Regions from separate parts of the Homo sapiens genome. Here region 1 is linked to region 2. Evidence: fine-mapped expression QTL. A gene starts in region 2. The other region holds a variant in brackets. All regions are shown on one strand. Distances are between the middles of the regions. Region 1 overlaps ABCB5 (ATP binding cassette subfamily B member 5). Region 2 holds the start of SP8 (Sp8 transcription factor).

What was found.
Region 1: its variant is fine-mapped to the expression of SP8 in sun-exposed skin (GTEx, PIP 0.92).

What each region holds. Positions count from the first base shown.
Region 1 is chr7:20,726,918-20,735,254 of GRCh38, reverse strand. ABCB5 (ATP binding cassette subfamily B member 5) reads right to left here. Exons shown (of 28, transcript NM_001163941.2): 22 at 8,115-8,215; 23 at 6,800-6,940. Among named protein-coding and RNA genes, the nearest start is that of SP8, 56 kb to the left of the region's middle. The variant G/A (reference allele first, on the strand shown) is at 4,173.
Region 2 is chr7:20,781,871-20,790,207 of GRCh38, reverse strand. It overlaps SP8 (Sp8 transcription factor), which reads left to right and starts at 3,322. Exons shown (of 2, transcript NM_182700.6): 1 at 3,322-3,430; 2 at 4,413-7,929. The coding sequence starts at 3,410. The coding sequence ends at 5,918. RefSeq lists an enhancer at 6,284-6,944.

The DNA of each region.
Region 1 (8,337 bases), 55 kb after region 2:
TTTGGTTTTTAAGAGAACTAGGAAACACACCCATAAACTGCCTGGTTCTGCTTCTCAGGCAGTTTTCAAAGCTGTGGCTTTTATTATTACTGTATTGAGGGCTGCCATATCTTGATTCTTTCTTACCTATATGCTCTGCTTAGCTTCTTGATAATATGGATAGAAAATATGGAAGAAACTCACAGAGATAGAGAAAGCTTTGCAGTGGGGAAAGGAAGGCTACAGAAACCTCTCCTGATTAGGAATGGTTCTTGGTCGGTATTGCAAAAGGCAAGTCAGCTGGAAACCAGCCGAAAGGGACTAACACAAAGAGATAGGATAAAATAAACTTATTTTGTACATCTAAATCTACACATTTATAGTGAAATAACAAATAGAATGTGTTACCAGGACTAACAAAGGGAGAGGTGAGTGTTTTACTACACATGGGTGCATGAGAACCTAAACAAGAGATTTTCTAAACGCCCCTATGCCTTGTCTGTAAGGTGGCAGAATGAAAATGTTATCACCTTATTTTAAATGCTCATTTCAGATAAACTTCTAGGATAGTAGAAATAGAGACGGCTTCTACCATAAGACATGCGTGTTGTCTTTTTTTTTCTTTTAGAGGCTTTTTCCTCTAAAAAGCCTTGCTGACAAACTAATATTATGAGCACATTAAAGAATTTTGCTGTTAAAACTCCCTTTGTGTATCTCCCTTTCTGAGACACAATGTCATTTTTGAAAGAGACACAGATAATCCATCCTTGTAGCTATAAATTATGCCTTGGAGTAATCTGGAATGTTTGATAAAATGAAGATTCCTGCCCCATACTAGATCTACAAATCAGATTTTGCAGGATGAGATCTAGGTATCTACAGTTTTAACCAGCTCCTAGATTGCTGAGTTGGAAAACCATTGGTTTAGAGAATGGCTCAAAGTGCTTTTTATCTAAGAAGAATTCTAGTAGGAGGGAGTTTTCTTTGTAAATTTCTTTGGTTTAGCTAGTCGATGAGATTGAAAGCTGTCTGTCATCCTAGATTCTGGAAGGTACAGAGTCTTCTAGGCCAGGTATCATTTAGTGTGTCTAAAGGGAGCTTGTGACACATTCATGGTAGTTGGGGCCACATTTGATCTCTAGGACCAAATCCTCTTTGGTGTTGAAGACAAATCTCATCTATTGACATTATGCATAGTGCTATGTTGCTCTTTTGGGCAATAACCACATTTAATACTGGAGGAGAATCCCTAGAGAATCTCTCTTTTGTCCATACTCCAAAAGTGTGGGTACCCTTATTCTGTCTGTATTCTGACTGGATGAAACTCAAAACGTGAGGCTGGGTGTGGTGGCTTACACCTGTAATCCTAGCACTTTGGGAGGCTAAGGGAGGTGGATCACTTGAGGTCCGGAGTTTGAGACCGGCCTGGCCAACATGGTGAAATCTGGTCTCCACCAAAACATGCAGAAATTAGCCAGGTGTGGTGACATGTGCCTGTAGTCCCAACTACTCAGGAGGCTGAGGTGGGAGAATTGCTTGAATCCAGGAAGCGGAGTTTGCGGCGAGCTGAGATCGTGCCACTGCACTCCAGCATGGGCGACAGAGCGAGACTCGAACTTAAAAAAAAAAAAAAAGAAAAGAAAAGAAAAGAGAAGAAAAGTGATACCAGTGGCTCTAGCTCAGATAGCTCTCTATTTCTTCCTTCCCTTGGGGCACTGGGAAATACCAAGGTGGTACTATTCTTTAATTGTTACTCTTATGTTAACAGTCCTTCATATGTTCTGATAGTTAAAATGCTTATGTATCTAGAAGAGACCCCCTTTTAATGAATTTAATTAAAAGAAATTCAGGAAGTATGGTAGGCCAGCTCAGGGAAGAAATTTTATATTGGGGACTTTTCATTCTCATATTTTAGGGCTATAAAATAGCACTAAGCAGGTCACCTGTTCCATTTATATGTGAGGAATCAGCCCAACTTTGAATACTCGAATGTTTGAAAAACTAAGCAAGAATTATTTAAAAAATAATTTCACAGAAATATTCTATGAATGTTTGGCCACAGAATTTGTAATAATAATAATAATAATAATAATGTACGTTGAGTAAACCAAACCTCTGGAATCTGGAACCATGAACTTGAATCTGTGCTCTGCTACTTACCGATTATGTAACTTTGAGCAAGTTAGGTAACCTCTTTGAGTCTTAATTGTTCTCATCTGTAAAATGGGAACCATAGTATTTCACAGGGTAGTTTAGAGCATTAAACAGATAATATACAGCAAATACTTAAAACTGAGTAAAGATTCAATCAAGATTTGCCGTTATAGCAATTTTCATAAGTAATGGAATGGTTGGCAGTCTTGGAAAGCCCCTTAAAGGAAACATCCTAACGGGTGTCATTTGCAGGCATGAAAGTGACTGGCATGATTTTGAGGTTGTATCATTCTTCGACTGAGAAATTTTTTCTTAGCTTTAATCTAAACAAATCTCAGTAGGTACAGGTAAATTCTCAATTCCACACATCATATTTTATATCAATGGTTGCCCTCGATTTAGATCCAGTCCTCCTGCCAAAGCACCTGGTATTAGACATATGGGTGTAGAAAAGAAGAAAATTAGAAAAATTTGTGAAAAACAGACTCCTGTTTTCAAAGTGTGAAGGTGACTCCGAAGGCACATTTCCAGAAATGACTGTACTGCCTAATTATGTACCATTCCAAATCTCCCCCTTAATTTTGATTCAGTCATTCATTCAATAAATATTTATTGTGTGTCTGTTATGTGCCACCCACTTGTTTTTGGCTTTTGGGAAACATCAGTGAACAAGATAGGTTACAACTTGTGCTCAGTCTATGCACTCATAAATATGGAAACACAAAATATAATTTCATAGAATCATAAGTGTCATAAGTGTTGTAAACAAAATATGGTGATGGGAAAGAGAGTGATGAGGAGGGAGGGTTAGGGGAACTACTTTGGACCATCGGTGAAAGTCCCTCTGAGGAGTGGACTTAGCAGGGGAAGCCTGAGTGGTAAGAAAAAGGTAGCTTAGCAAAGCCCTGGGGAATGACCATTCCAGGCAGAGAATAGCAAGTGTGAAGACCCTGCAATGGGGAGGTCCAGGGACAGACATGGCAAGTGTGGGGCTGATGAGTAGTTAACATGGGAGATAGAGGTGGATGAAATTGGAAAGCAACGCAGCAGCCCCATCATGAAGGTCTTTCAGGTCATGGTAAGGACTTTGGCTTTATTCAAATTTCAGTGGGAAGATCTAGATCTTGCAGAATTTTAATAAACTGGTGCTATTGGATTTGTGCATTAAATGATCAGTCTGGCTGCAGTGTGGAGAATGGATTATAGGGAAGCAAGAGTGGACACAAGGACATTGGTGAGGTTGTTGCAGTGGTCCAGTCAAGACAGGGAGGGGCTTGGATGAGTGTGAAGAGGATGAGAAGAATTTTGGAATTAGAGTCATGAGGAATCAGTGATTTATGTGGTGGACAATGGCAAGAGAAGCAACAGGGATGACTCCAACATTTTTGGGCTGACAACTGTGTGGATGGTGGTTGGTGTTATTAGTTAAGATGGGAAAGTCTTGGGGAAGATAACCTTTGGGGAGAAACACCTTAAATTCTGTTTTGAACACATTGAGATATTAGTCCTCCAAGTGGAGGTGTCTCCTAAGTAATTGGATAAGGGTCTTGTGCTCAGGGCAGGGTCAGAGTTGGAAATATACAGAAGGAAGTTATCAGGACACAGGTGGTATTTAAAACTGACAGATTGGATGAGAACACTAATGAAAGTGTAATAGATGAAAGGTCTGGGAGCTCTAAAGCCCTCCAACACACAGAGTCCTGGCTGAAAAACAGGATCCAGTAAATTTTATATGTATATATATATATATATTTTTTTTTTTTTTTCCTGAGTTGGAGTCTTGCTCTGTTGCCCAGGCTGGAGTGCAGTGGTGTGATCTCGGCTCACTGCAACCTCCACCTCCGGGGTTGAAGCAATTCTTGTCCCTCACCTCCCAAGTAGATGGGATTACAGGCGCCCACCACCATGCCCAGCTAATTTTTGTATTTTTTAGTAGAGACGGGGTTTCACCATGTTGGCCAGGCTAGTCTTGAGCTCCTGACCTTGTGATCCACCCACCTCTGCCTCCCAAAGTGTTGGGACTACAGGCATGAGCCACC[G/A]TGCCTGGCCTTCTTATTTTTTTTTATAGGTGTGATTACAAAGCAAAGAAAGAGTAGTGACAGAGAAATTGATGAAAACAGATGAAAATTCTTCTGTGAGAATTTGGAAAATCATCAAACCTCGTACATTAGTATGAATATGTTTAATTGGCTTGCTTTCTACTAATACTCAAAACTAGTTATACAGAAGGAACGGGGCCCTGGGGATTAAAGAAGTCTGTGGAAAGTTTAGAGCAACATGAGGAAAACATGTTTTGAGTTTCAAACTATTGGCTTGCAAACAAACTTTTGGATTACAACCAACTTTCAAGCTTGGGAGTGCCTGGATTATATTAGAACAAAGGAAAAACTGGCTCACGGGGGCTGGTGAGCTGAATTATTTATGTGATTTCAGATTTTGTTTCTTGTTAATCTACCTAAGTAATTAGTCTTATGTAATCAGAATGAAACCCAAGCCTAAATATAATTGTGGTTTATAAATTCACATGGGCAATAGTGCACACTATTTTAGAGGCTAGGAGAACATAGGACAGGGAACTTGCAATTTCTGTTGAAATTTTATTTTAAATTTTTTGAGGCAGAGTCTCACTCTGTCATCCAGGCTAGAGTGCAGTGGTGTGATCTTGGCTCATTGCAACCTCTGCCTCCTCGGGTCAAGTGATTCTCATGCCTCAGCCTCCCAAGTAGCTGGGATTACAGGCATGCACCGCCATACATGGCTAATTTTTGTATTTTGACTACAGACAGCATTTCACAGGTTGTCCAGGCTGGTCTCGAAATCCTGACCTTTGGTGATCCACCTGCCTTGGACTCCCAAAGTGCTGGGATTAGAGGCATGAGCCACCACATCCAGCCCTTCTGTTGAAATTTTAAATACAGATATTCCATTTCCATATTCCATTTTATAAGGAAATCTGCTTCCAGGAAACTTCTAAGTGGCTTTGGTGTCAGGTAAGATTTAGGAATACTGGGTTGGTGAACTCTGGACTGTTTTCTTATCAGTGCCTAACAAAGAAACTTCCTGGGACTTCACTTAATGCTTAATAAATAAATAAATTTTCATGTGAATAGAAACTAAAAATTATTCCAAGTTATTCTGAAATTACTTAGGTTTAAATGTCTTTTGGCCATTTCCTCAAATTGAACCTATCCTGAAAATACAAATATGCCAACAATAAGGATATTCAAAGTAATGTCCTGAGACTTGGGAAACAAAACCCAAAGAGAAGTGCCCAGTGTGTTCTGCCAAATAGCAGCATCCTTGTAACAGGTGTAATCTCCCAATTCATTATTGTGAAGAGGCTGATACTTGCATGGATGTGCATTTTTTGGTGGGCTTGTTAAAAATAACATAATGTTACTTTTTTGAGTCAAGTATTGTATGGATTTCTCCAGTTCTAAATGCTTAGCAATGACGTTTATGATGGATTAGCAACATTTCTGATATTTTAGGCTCTCAGCTCAGAATTAATACTCAAAATTAATTTTTCTAATTTAGCAGTTGCATTAGATGTTCCGGTAAAACAAATAAATTCATAATTATGTGACCAGAACTTCAAAATAGGAGCTCCAACCTAATGCTTTGGGAAGAAGCAGCCTCACTGGGACACCACATTCAATTCCAAATGTGACATTTTTGAAGGGAAACACTCATTTATATGTGTTTCTTCTGGATTATTTGCTTAGCAAATAATTCATCCTCACTGATGTACAGTCTTACTTTAGGAAGCCATCTCCACACTGAGAGTTTCATAATGTCTCACAAATTTCCTAAGGGATGAATGACAAGAAGGCATATTTTGCCCCCACATTCCCATGTTCCAGTAAACTGAAGCAGAGAGCAATTCATCTGGGAATTTAATTCAGATTTTATGCCTTATATCAGTATCAGTATTTTACCAGTTATGCTGTACTTATAGAGACTAAATAACAAAAACACTTAGCTCGATTTAATCATTTCACAGTGTTAACATATATCAGAACATCCCATTGTACCCCATAAATATATAATATGTACAATTATTGTCTGTCAATTAAAAATAAAATTCATCCCAATTACCCTGATTTGATCATTAAACATCATATGAATATATCAAAATATCATGTGTACCCCTAAAATATGTGTAACTATTATATATCAATACAAAATTTAAAAATATGTGTATATTTAAAAAAATTCCAACTTAAAAAAAATTCAAGCATACCTTTTCCACATATGTGATTTAAATGATAACTCACTATAAACTAGACATCTTTCTGGTAAATAAGTACATGACCCCCTTACAAGGTTTATGTATTTCCACAACTTATTAATTAATTTATTTATTTTGAGACAGAGTCTCACTTTGTTGCCCAGGCTGGAGTGCAGTGGCGTGATCTCAGCTCACTGCAGCCTCCATTTCCTGGGTTCAATCGATTCTCCTGCCTCAGCCTCCTGAGTAGGTGGGATTACAGGAGCCTGCCACCACACCCAGCTAATTTTTGTATTTTTAGTAGAGATGGGGTTTTATTATGTTGGTCAGGCTGATCTCAAACTCCTGACCTCAAGTGATCCACCCGCCTCAGCCTCTCAAAGTGTTGGAATTACAGGTGTGAGCTACCAGGTCCGGACTATTTCCACGACTTACATGAACATGCCCTCTGGGGTCATTCGTCCAGCTTGAATTAAATAGGCTCCAAATCGAAACCCTGCCGCATAGGCAAAATATATAAAGGCATGGCTGAATGCATAACAGCTTCCAATAATCTGTGCTTTCTTCGAGGTATTTCTGGAATGTACAAAATTTACCAAATAATGAGGCATGAATTATAGCAAGGTCAATTGAATACATGTAGAGTAATAAATAGAGAGGACTTTGAAATGTTATAATTTGGTGGAAAGGCATTTTTCGAATGATGAAAGAGAAAGTGATTTTTTTTTTTTTACTACTGAGAATTCTTTGAGAAAAGACAGATAATGTTATAATTCTTTTCCCTATAGTCATATACTCTCTAGTTCAGTATAACAAATTTAACTTTATATACTGTTAAATGAATGGGCAAAGCCCGTGAAAGGATGGCTAGTGTAAGAGTTAGAGATTTGGTTTAGGTATTTAGAAGGATTTTCTAAGTCTCCATTACAATCTTTCATTAACAGAATAGAGGAAATTAAAGGGTGGTGCCAACTACAAGTATGAGTCCAAAAGAGTAAAAAGCTATCTTTCTGTTAAAGTAATATAAAAAGCATCACTAAGTCAATGTGATAAGGAGGACTAGTTTAAAATTAAAAGTGTAAGTGCATTTATTATGTATATATTCGTATTTAAAATGTAAACTATTTTAGGGATTTAATGTAAAGGGCCGAGCTCTTTTCTCTTGCTGTGTCGCCTAGGCTGGAGTTGGAGTGTAATGGCATGATCTCAGCTCACTGCAACCTCTGCCTCCCAGGTTCAAGTGATTCTCCTGCCTCAGCCTCCAAGTAGCTGGGACTACAAGTGTGCACCACCACACCCAGCTAATTTTTGCATTTTTAGTAGAGATGGGGTTTCATCATGTTGTCCAGGCTGGTCTCTAACTGTTGACCTTAAGTGATCCGCCCACCTCAGCCTCCCAAAGTGCTGGGATTACAGGTGTGAGACACAGCGCCCTGCCCGCAATTTTATTTTCTTTCTTGCGTATGTTATTTCATTAATATTCTTTCAGGAAAATAAGAAAAATGTGCATACTTAGTAACAGACAGTTAATGGTAATGTGAGAGGACCTAAAATATTTATTCTAATTGTGGTTGCCCTCAATTCCTCTTCTAGTTTCTCTTGGTGAAGTCATATGAGAAATTATGACATGACATTATTAGGAAAGGCTCAAGAGCAAATGAATTAGCAGGCAAACCACTGGAGTCATTTGAGAGTACTGCCTTTACAGAACAAAATTAAGTTTTTGAAGTCAGTATGAATCTATAATCACCTGTGTTGAGTCTGAAGCATCTCTTCATACATTTGCTCGAAGGCTTTTTCCCTTGTTAATGACACTATAGTACGTATATTCTCCAAAGCTTCAGTTGCTATCTTATAAAACAGGACAATACAATATAGAAATAAAATTAGTAATGGTTAATCTTTTCCCATTTGTGAATTCTAGTCACTCACACTGGGGACATATTAAGTATATCAAGTCAGTAAGTTTTCCT
Region 2 (8,337 bases):
ATCAAACAAATAAAACCAGGGATGATTAAAAACCTCCTAGTTTATTAAATTTGAAATTCAAATGAAATTTATGCTGCAGATGCATACAGAATGCTAATAGATTTTAGCTTTATTGATAGTGGATCCCACAGGTTTGCAAGAAACAGCAGAATATCCATCTACCCCTCTTCCTGCCAGCACATTAAACTTCATATGGGGTGGAGAAACTTTTAATTAATGTTAGAAAGCCTGTACTTCCTATTTTTCTTCCCCCTCTTTTTCAAACATCTATATTATCACAATATAATACTCAAGAGTAATAATCAATATCGTAAAAGTTAAACCGAAGTGTATGCACCCTGAAATGCTTTGCCAGGCAGGCTATATCAACAATGGATTACAGATGTTCTCTCCTATGGGACAGGATTTAAGAATGATTGGGTCACTTCTCCAAAGTGGAGAAAGAGCTGTCATTAAGTCTAGTTTCAAGCATATTTAGATGCAAAATTATGACTGCTAAAATTTTTGGTCAATTATATAATTCTCTTTGTCTTTTCTTTTTAACACAGCTGCCTTATGCCTCATGTCACAAACACTAGCCATTTCTTTTGGGGAGGGAGTGAAAGAAGGGTGGTACAAGAAAAAAATGCCCTTTGACCAATGCTACTATGAAAGAAATAGCTCACTTTTTATATGAAAGTAAGTGGAATATACATATATTTCTAATAAAAAATATATATACATATATATAATGAAGAAAGTTGCACATACACACCTTTGTGGAAATCCCCAAATGCTGCAAGCCAATCTTACACAAACTGAAGAATCCAGTATTTTCATTAAATCCACACCAACGTTGTGACTTATAGGAAGAATGACATATGATTCTAAAGTTAATTTATACACTTGAAAAATCTTAGAATTAGGTAGCTCAAAACTGCAGTCACATGACGCTGGGTTTTTCTAATTCCTGGCATTTTTGAGGAAACAGTGTTAACGCCTCTGTTTACTCTCAGTATCAGCATTTAACTTTTTAATAGTCCTGCCTCACTTCCTTCCAGAAGATAGGAGGATAAAAAGATAAAATAAATAACTATTCATAGATGGGAGCCTCCCCTCAAAGCTGTTTTTCTCCACCTTTGAGGATGATGGTATTGATTAGAATTAAACCCCAAATCTGAACAACTGTATATTAGGCCCTTAAAATGAATATCATTAAAGAAGGAGACCAAAGCAATGAAGTTAATTCTCTTTTATTTGTTAAACGGAGTACCCTCCTTCCCCCACCCCTTCCTCCTTCTGGGCTGGCCTGTCACGCCTTCTCAACACGCTAAAATCATTCAGAGCGGCTTGCAGGGAGAAACACGACATTTATGGTAAGCGTCAGCCCTCAGAGAAAGAAAGCAGTTCATTAATTTACTTCACACTTACTTCAAAGTATGAGAGTATACCTTACCCCCTTAATCAATAGATATGATGTACAGTCAATATCCCCACAGCGTTTAAAAAAGGGTCAGAAATGTACACTCTCACACCACAAACATCAGTTTCAACTCTGCTCAATGAAATTTACACGATACAACTTGACTTCGAAATTTTGTAAACCCTAGGAAGATTTTTTGACATCCCTAGAAGCTGTGAAATCCTTGAGGGGGGTTCAAACACAACAGTAAAATAAAAATGTTTTCCCAGTCAAAACAAAACAGTTCGCCCAGCTAGTCACATTTTAGTTAATTCCATTTTAAAATTAGACTTCTGAGAGCACTTGTAACTGGTTAAAAATATGAACTGTTTTTATAACTTATGAATATTCAATAGGGCTACAAAGACTGGACTTTTTGCTACACTGGTGTTGTGCTTTCTGCGGTTTAAGTTCCCTTGTGGTGGCAGTGAAATTGTAATGGCATTTCTGAAGGCAACTAATAACACAAATGGCAAGCAAATGACTAAACCCCACCGAATTTGAACTAAGTGTATCTATTAACATGCACACACACTCATAGACAGATCTCTGGCCCAATCGCCATTAGACACTGACGCCTGGATAAATGTCCAAGATTTGTCAAAAGCTCCTCTCTATTCTTAGATAAATAGAACCCATATATTTCGATCAAAGTCCTGATTCTTTTCTCAGAAAGAGGCAGTGAGGTTTTCTGTGAAAATTTCTAAATTCCGTAAAACGCTCTTCAATTTCTTACCCAAAGAAAAAACGACCCTCGCTTACTCTCTTCTCTATCTAATCCTTTTGTATTGAAATTTACTCAACACCACGGGACACACACACCTCCTCCCCTAGAGTGAGACGTGCACTTCTAAAGCAGAATTCCACCTCAGGGAAAAAAAAAAAAAAAAAAAAAAAAAAAGCCACGGCATCAAAGAAACAACTCATGGGCGCGCAGGCGCGCATCCACGTCCCAACGCATCCCTAAAAATAACCCTTAGCCTCTCAACCTTTCTACTATTTCGTTGGAGAGCCGGGAAAGAAAAGGTGGGTTTAAAGATCTTCTTCAAAAATGTAGTGACGCTGTTTACCAAGTTAAGAAAAAAAAATCACTCAAGATTTTAGGTACAAGGAGCCAAAGGAAGTTGGCGACAGGGGCAGCGTTTGTGAATATTTATTCACTCAGCCTCCATCAACTTAGTCGGTTTCTCTCTTCAGCTCGACAGTCTCTCTCTTACAAACACACACTTTATTGCATTGTTCCCATTCCCCACTACCAGCTTTGGTGCGCGCACACAACACAAGCGCCCACACACACCCTTCCCTCTTCTCTGTCGCACAAATACACATGTTCACAGCCCTCCTTCTCCCCCAACACCAAACACACTCACCCCCCACCCAGTTGAGTCCCTCTTCCCTCCCTAGGTTTGTCAGTTACACTACCGTACACTCACACCCTTCCCAACACTTAACTGCTCTGTCCCTCTACCCCGCTTTGTCGCACACGCAGTTATCTTATCACACAACCCTCCCTTTTCTGCACTCTCTCCACTCCCCGCCTTTACCACACTGTCACTGTTACGGTGTCACACCCCCATCCCCCCTCCCTCCAGTCTCCGCACTGTCCTCTCCTACGCCTGGTCACACTCGCACACAGTTACATTGTTACACACACACTCATACACGCGAGCGCGCGCTTTGCGCTTTGTAACACACGCAGCCGCCCCCGCCCCCTCCGCTCCCACTCCCCCTTCCACCACGGCGGCAGGCGGCGGCGCCGATGACCTCACGGCGCGCGCGCCGCGCGGCCCGGCGAGGCCGCAGATTGGCTGGCCGCGCCTCCGCGGCACTTCAAAGCCGGAGAGGGAGCTACAATTGTGGTGGAATGGGCGGAACTGATCATTGTATTGCACACCTCTAAAAAAAACACTGCCTCTGATTTATCAATATAAAAAAGATCCTCTGAGAGGAGGAGGGCACTTTTGTGTGATGGCAACTTCACTTCTAGGGGTGAGTCTCAGGATTTTCTCTTGCTGGTTTAATTAGTTTCCTTTTATTGCCGATTGGAGGGGGTTAAAGTCGCCCCGGCCAGGCCACGGGCTATCAGTCTCTCTATTGAGAGCTTTTTTTTTTTTTCTTTAAATACAAGTGAGTTTGGAGAAAAGAAAAAGGGGGAGAAGGGGGCAGAGTCACTTTTTTTCAGCGCAGGAAAAGGTTCGAAGGGCATTTAGACAAGCCACCGCGCAGCGCCTCGCTGCTCCCTGCCCGGGAGACCTGCGTCCAGCCCATTTTACAGGCACCGATTTCGGGGGTAAAGAGAGCAAGTTTTTCCTTCTGGGCAAAGTGCAGATTCTTCCCCTAACCCTTAAAAAAAAATTCTGCAGCCCGCCTTGTCTCGCAGGTACGTTGAACTCGTCTCGTTTTTACTACTGTAGATATGCTTTTAAAAAAAGAAAGAAAGAAAAGCAGGAAGAAAGAGTGAGCCCTACAGTTTGATTTCTTTTGGCCTGGGAGAAACAACCCAGGATGGGTTTCTGGGGACCCGAACAGGTTTTTCAAAGCTCTCCGGATTACAGGGAAGCGCTCTTAAAAGCAATCCAATGGTTTTCCCCCAGGCTTCTCGGCAAAGAAAACTTCCTTCCTCTCCAATCTGGACTTTTTGCTTGTTTGTTACGAAGTGTCTGGGGCTTTGTGTGCAAGAGAGTGTTGTTTTAGGTGAGAATACTTGTCAAACTCTTCTTTAGCGTGGTGCTTGCTCCCGAATCAGACGCCGGCAGCCAAACTTGTCCCCTCCTGTAGAGTAGGAAGCGGCCGGGCGCCGGGGCTGTTGGGGGTGCCAGGTGAGTTGGTGGCGGCGCGCCGCAGCGAGAGATGGGGTGCAGTGGGGCGCTTTGGAGGCTACCGAAGGACTGATGCACATTTCTTCCTTTCCTCCCCCACCGGCCCTTTGCCCACCTCCCCTCCCCCACTCCTTCTCCTCTCCTCCTCGCAGGAAGAACCGAGGTTGGGATCGACTCCTCTGGCCATGCTTGCCGCTACCTGTAATAAGATAGGCAGCCCCAGCCCGTCTCCCTCCTCCCTCTCGGACAGCTCTTCTTCCTTCGGCAAAGGCTTCCACCCCTGGAAACGCTCCTCGTCCTCTTCTTCCGCCAGCTGCAACGTAGTGGGTTCCAGTCTCTCAAGCTTCGGCGTGTCCGGGGCCTCCAGGAACGGCGGCTCGTCCTCGGCGGCTGCGGCGGCCGCGGCAGCAGCCGCGGCTGCCGCGGCCCTGGTGTCCGACTCGTTCAGCTGCGGCGGCTCGCCTGGCTCCAGCGCCTTCTCCCTCACCTCCAGCAGCGCCGCAGCCGCCGCCGCCGCCGCCGCAGCCGCCGCCTCCAGCTCGCCCTTCGCCAACGACTACTCTGTTTTCCAGGCCCCCGGAGTTTCCGGGGGCAGCGGCGGCGGCGGCGGGGGCGGCGGCGGCGGCTCCTCCGCGCACTCGCAGGACGGCTCCCACCAGCCGGTGTTCATCTCCAAGGTGCACACCTCTGTGGACGGGCTGCAGGGCATCTACCCGCGGGTGGGCATGGCGCACCCGTACGAGTCGTGGTTTAAGCCCTCGCACCCGGGCCTGGGTGCTGCGGGCGAGGTGGGCTCGGCCGGCGCCTCCAGCTGGTGGGACGTGGGGGCCGGCTGGATCGACGTGCAGAACCCGAACAGCGCGGCTGCGCTGCCCGGCTCGCTGCACCCTGCCGCCGGGGGGCTCCAAACCTCGCTGCACTCGCCGCTCGGAGGCTACAACTCGGATTACTCGGGCCTGAGTCACTCGGCCTTCAGCAGCGGCGCCTCCTCGCACCTGCTCAGCCCCGCCGGGCAGCACCTCATGGACGGCTTCAAGCCAGTGCTACCCGGCTCCTACCCGGACTCGGCCCCGTCGCCGCTGGCCGGCGCGGGGGGCTCCATGTTGAGCGCTGGGCCTTCGGCGCCGCTGGGGGGCTCCCCGCGCTCCTCAGCTCGCCGCTACTCCGGCCGCGCCACCTGCGACTGCCCCAACTGCCAGGAGGCAGAGCGGCTGGGCCCTGCCGGGGCGAGCTTGCGGCGCAAGGGCCTGCACAGCTGCCACATCCCGGGCTGCGGCAAGGTGTACGGCAAGACTTCGCACCTCAAGGCGCACCTGCGCTGGCACACGGGCGAGCGGCCCTTCGTGTGCAACTGGCTTTTCTGCGGCAAGCGCTTCACGCGCTCCGACGAGCTGCAGCGGCACCTGCGGACCCACACCGGCGAGAAGCGCTTCGCCTGTCCAGTTTGCAACAAGCGCTTCATGCGCAGCGACCACCTCAGCAAGCACGTGAAGACGCACAGTGGCGGCGGCGGCGGCGGCGGCTCGGCGGGCTCGGGCAGCGGCGGCAAGAAGGGCAGCGACACCGACAGCGAGCACAGCGCCGCGGGCAGCCCGCCCTGCCACTCCCCAGAGCTGCTGCAGCCCCCCGAGCCCGGGCACCGCAACGGCCTAGAGTGACGCCCACCCTGCGCCCGCCCCTCTCCCCGACCTCCTCCCACCAAGTCCTCTTGGGCCCTGTCTGTCCGGACTTCAACTCCAGCCTTTCCCTATTGCATCCGACTCGCTCTCTGTCTCTTTCTGTTTCTGCCCCTCTTCCTTCTTCCTTCTGTGACTTAACTTTGTAAAGGGGATATGGACAAGTAAGTAACACGCATCGCTGTCCCGGGCCCTGGCTTTCCCTTTCCACGGGTAACGCTGCCTGAACCCGTTGCAGCCGGAACCCGCGCCTCGTCGGGCCTTTATTTCTCGTTCTCTCTTCCTTGTCCTCCCCTCCTCCACCCCCCAGGTTGTGAAGGGCGTAACTTTTAGAGGGAACGGCCACTGGAGGTAGAGCTGGACTAATCCAGTGCCTGGTAGACAGCGGGCCTCGCGCGGGCAGGAGCGGCTCGGCTGACAAGCCTGAGCGGAGCGGTGGAGAGGGAGAGGCTGGAGGCCTGGGCAGAACAGCGCCGCCCGGGCAGACGGCTGCTTGGTTCCAGAGCCGCTGTACTGAGCACCTCGGCTTCGGAGCACCCTGCCAGGCCCCTGGGCATCGCCGGACGTCCTACTCAGGCTGTCGGGGCTTGGTGGGGGTGACTTTTGGCAGCCCGAGACCCAGAGTTTGTAGAGTTTAGATCTCCCAATGTCAGTCTGCCTCTTTTTCTTTGTTCCCTGAGGTGGAACCGATGCAAGTTTCAGCAAAGGGCAGTCTTGTCGAATCGCTGCAGCAGCTTTCTTTCATCTTTATAGCATATATTTTATTTTTAAAAAAACTAGGGGGAAAATAGCAACCTTCCATTTGGTTTCCCTTCTATAATAGTTTTTTCCTCTAACGGGGAGCAATCTTTCTCTCGAAACTGCTAATATTGATCCCAAAGTTACTTTGACTGCATTAACTTAACTTACGGGGTGGGGGCGGGGGTGAGGGTAGGTGCTTTTTTCTTATGCAAAAATACTCCTTTCCGGTGAGACCAGATTAACTATCTCCATGTTTGTCCTTTTCTACCTCGTTTTTTCACCACTCCCAAACATAACCTCCCAATCTTTTTTGTTAGTCCGGCCGTCAATTGTATAGTACCAATTTCGTAAATTCTCTCAATTCATGAAGATCGTAGGGTTAAACTTTTTTGTGTGTGATTTAAACTTACAAACAAGTGAAGAAGCTATCGTTTATTTCAGACGAGGCTGTAGTTTAAATACCAAAAGAGGGAAAATAAAAAAGAACCTTTGTAAAATATATCTGAACCTAATGGTTTGTACAACTGGAGAATCGTTCTAGATTAGTTACCAATTAAATATAACTCCGCCAGTGTAAGGGTGTGAGGTGCAGTTGTCCAGGAGACGATTTTGTATAGTATTTTTCTTGTACATTACTTCCAGTAAATATTTGAAAATATATTGAAGTAAACTTGATTTTTTTTTTTTGTCACAAGAAAATATTAAGAGTTATTGTTGCAGTTCTGATGAGCTGCAGGTTTTTTGAACTCACTTCTGGAGGTGCAGAGCCACAAACGCACTTTCGGGGCCTAGTTTTGCTCGAATATGAATTTAGATAGGTATCAAGCTGTAACTAAGACAATATTTGATAAATGTTGGATGACATTTAATTTAATGGAGCATGTACTTATTTGCATTTGCTGGCAGTTCAGGCATAGTTAAAGTGAGAGTTCTCCTATATTTCATAATAAGTGGTCTGCCAAAACCCATGTATTAAATAAATTGTCCAAGTGAAACTCGACTAACTTTGGCCTTTGTGTATTTCCTGAAGGTAATATTGTTAACTGTTAATAAATACTTCTGACACTACATTTAAATGTTTGCAGATTCTGCAAACTAATTGCTCATTGTAATGTTGAAATAATTTGGATATTTCACATTGAAATGAAAAGCCTTTCTCTGGAGCATTTTAGATTTGCATTTTAAATGCATGAAATGTAATTGATTTATTTGTAATATTTTAAATGGTATAATAAACTCAGATAAAAGACTAGGCCAGTTAATTTGTATTTTTTCCCCTTTTTAAACTATGGACGTGCATTTTATCTTCAGTTAATTGTCTAATTTAAACAAAATATATCCTTGTTTGTGGTAATATTTAAATAATTACCTTTAAGATGTTAGATGGAAAGATCTATTTGGCAAAGCTGTGTTTTCTCTGTTTACCAAGATAAAGATTATAGTGTCTAAGGAATGTAATTGATTATTTACCAGTAGATTTAGCTCATAGCATCAGGATTTACTGACCTCTTAAAATTTGTACTAAGTCACAATTCAAAGAAATTTCACCATTCTCTTTCCTTCTCAGTCTCCAGAAGGAGTCAGGTTGTTGGCCATTGATTGCATTAGTATTTAAAAGGCCAAGCCTTACATTGGAAGATCAATACATCTAAAATAAAAA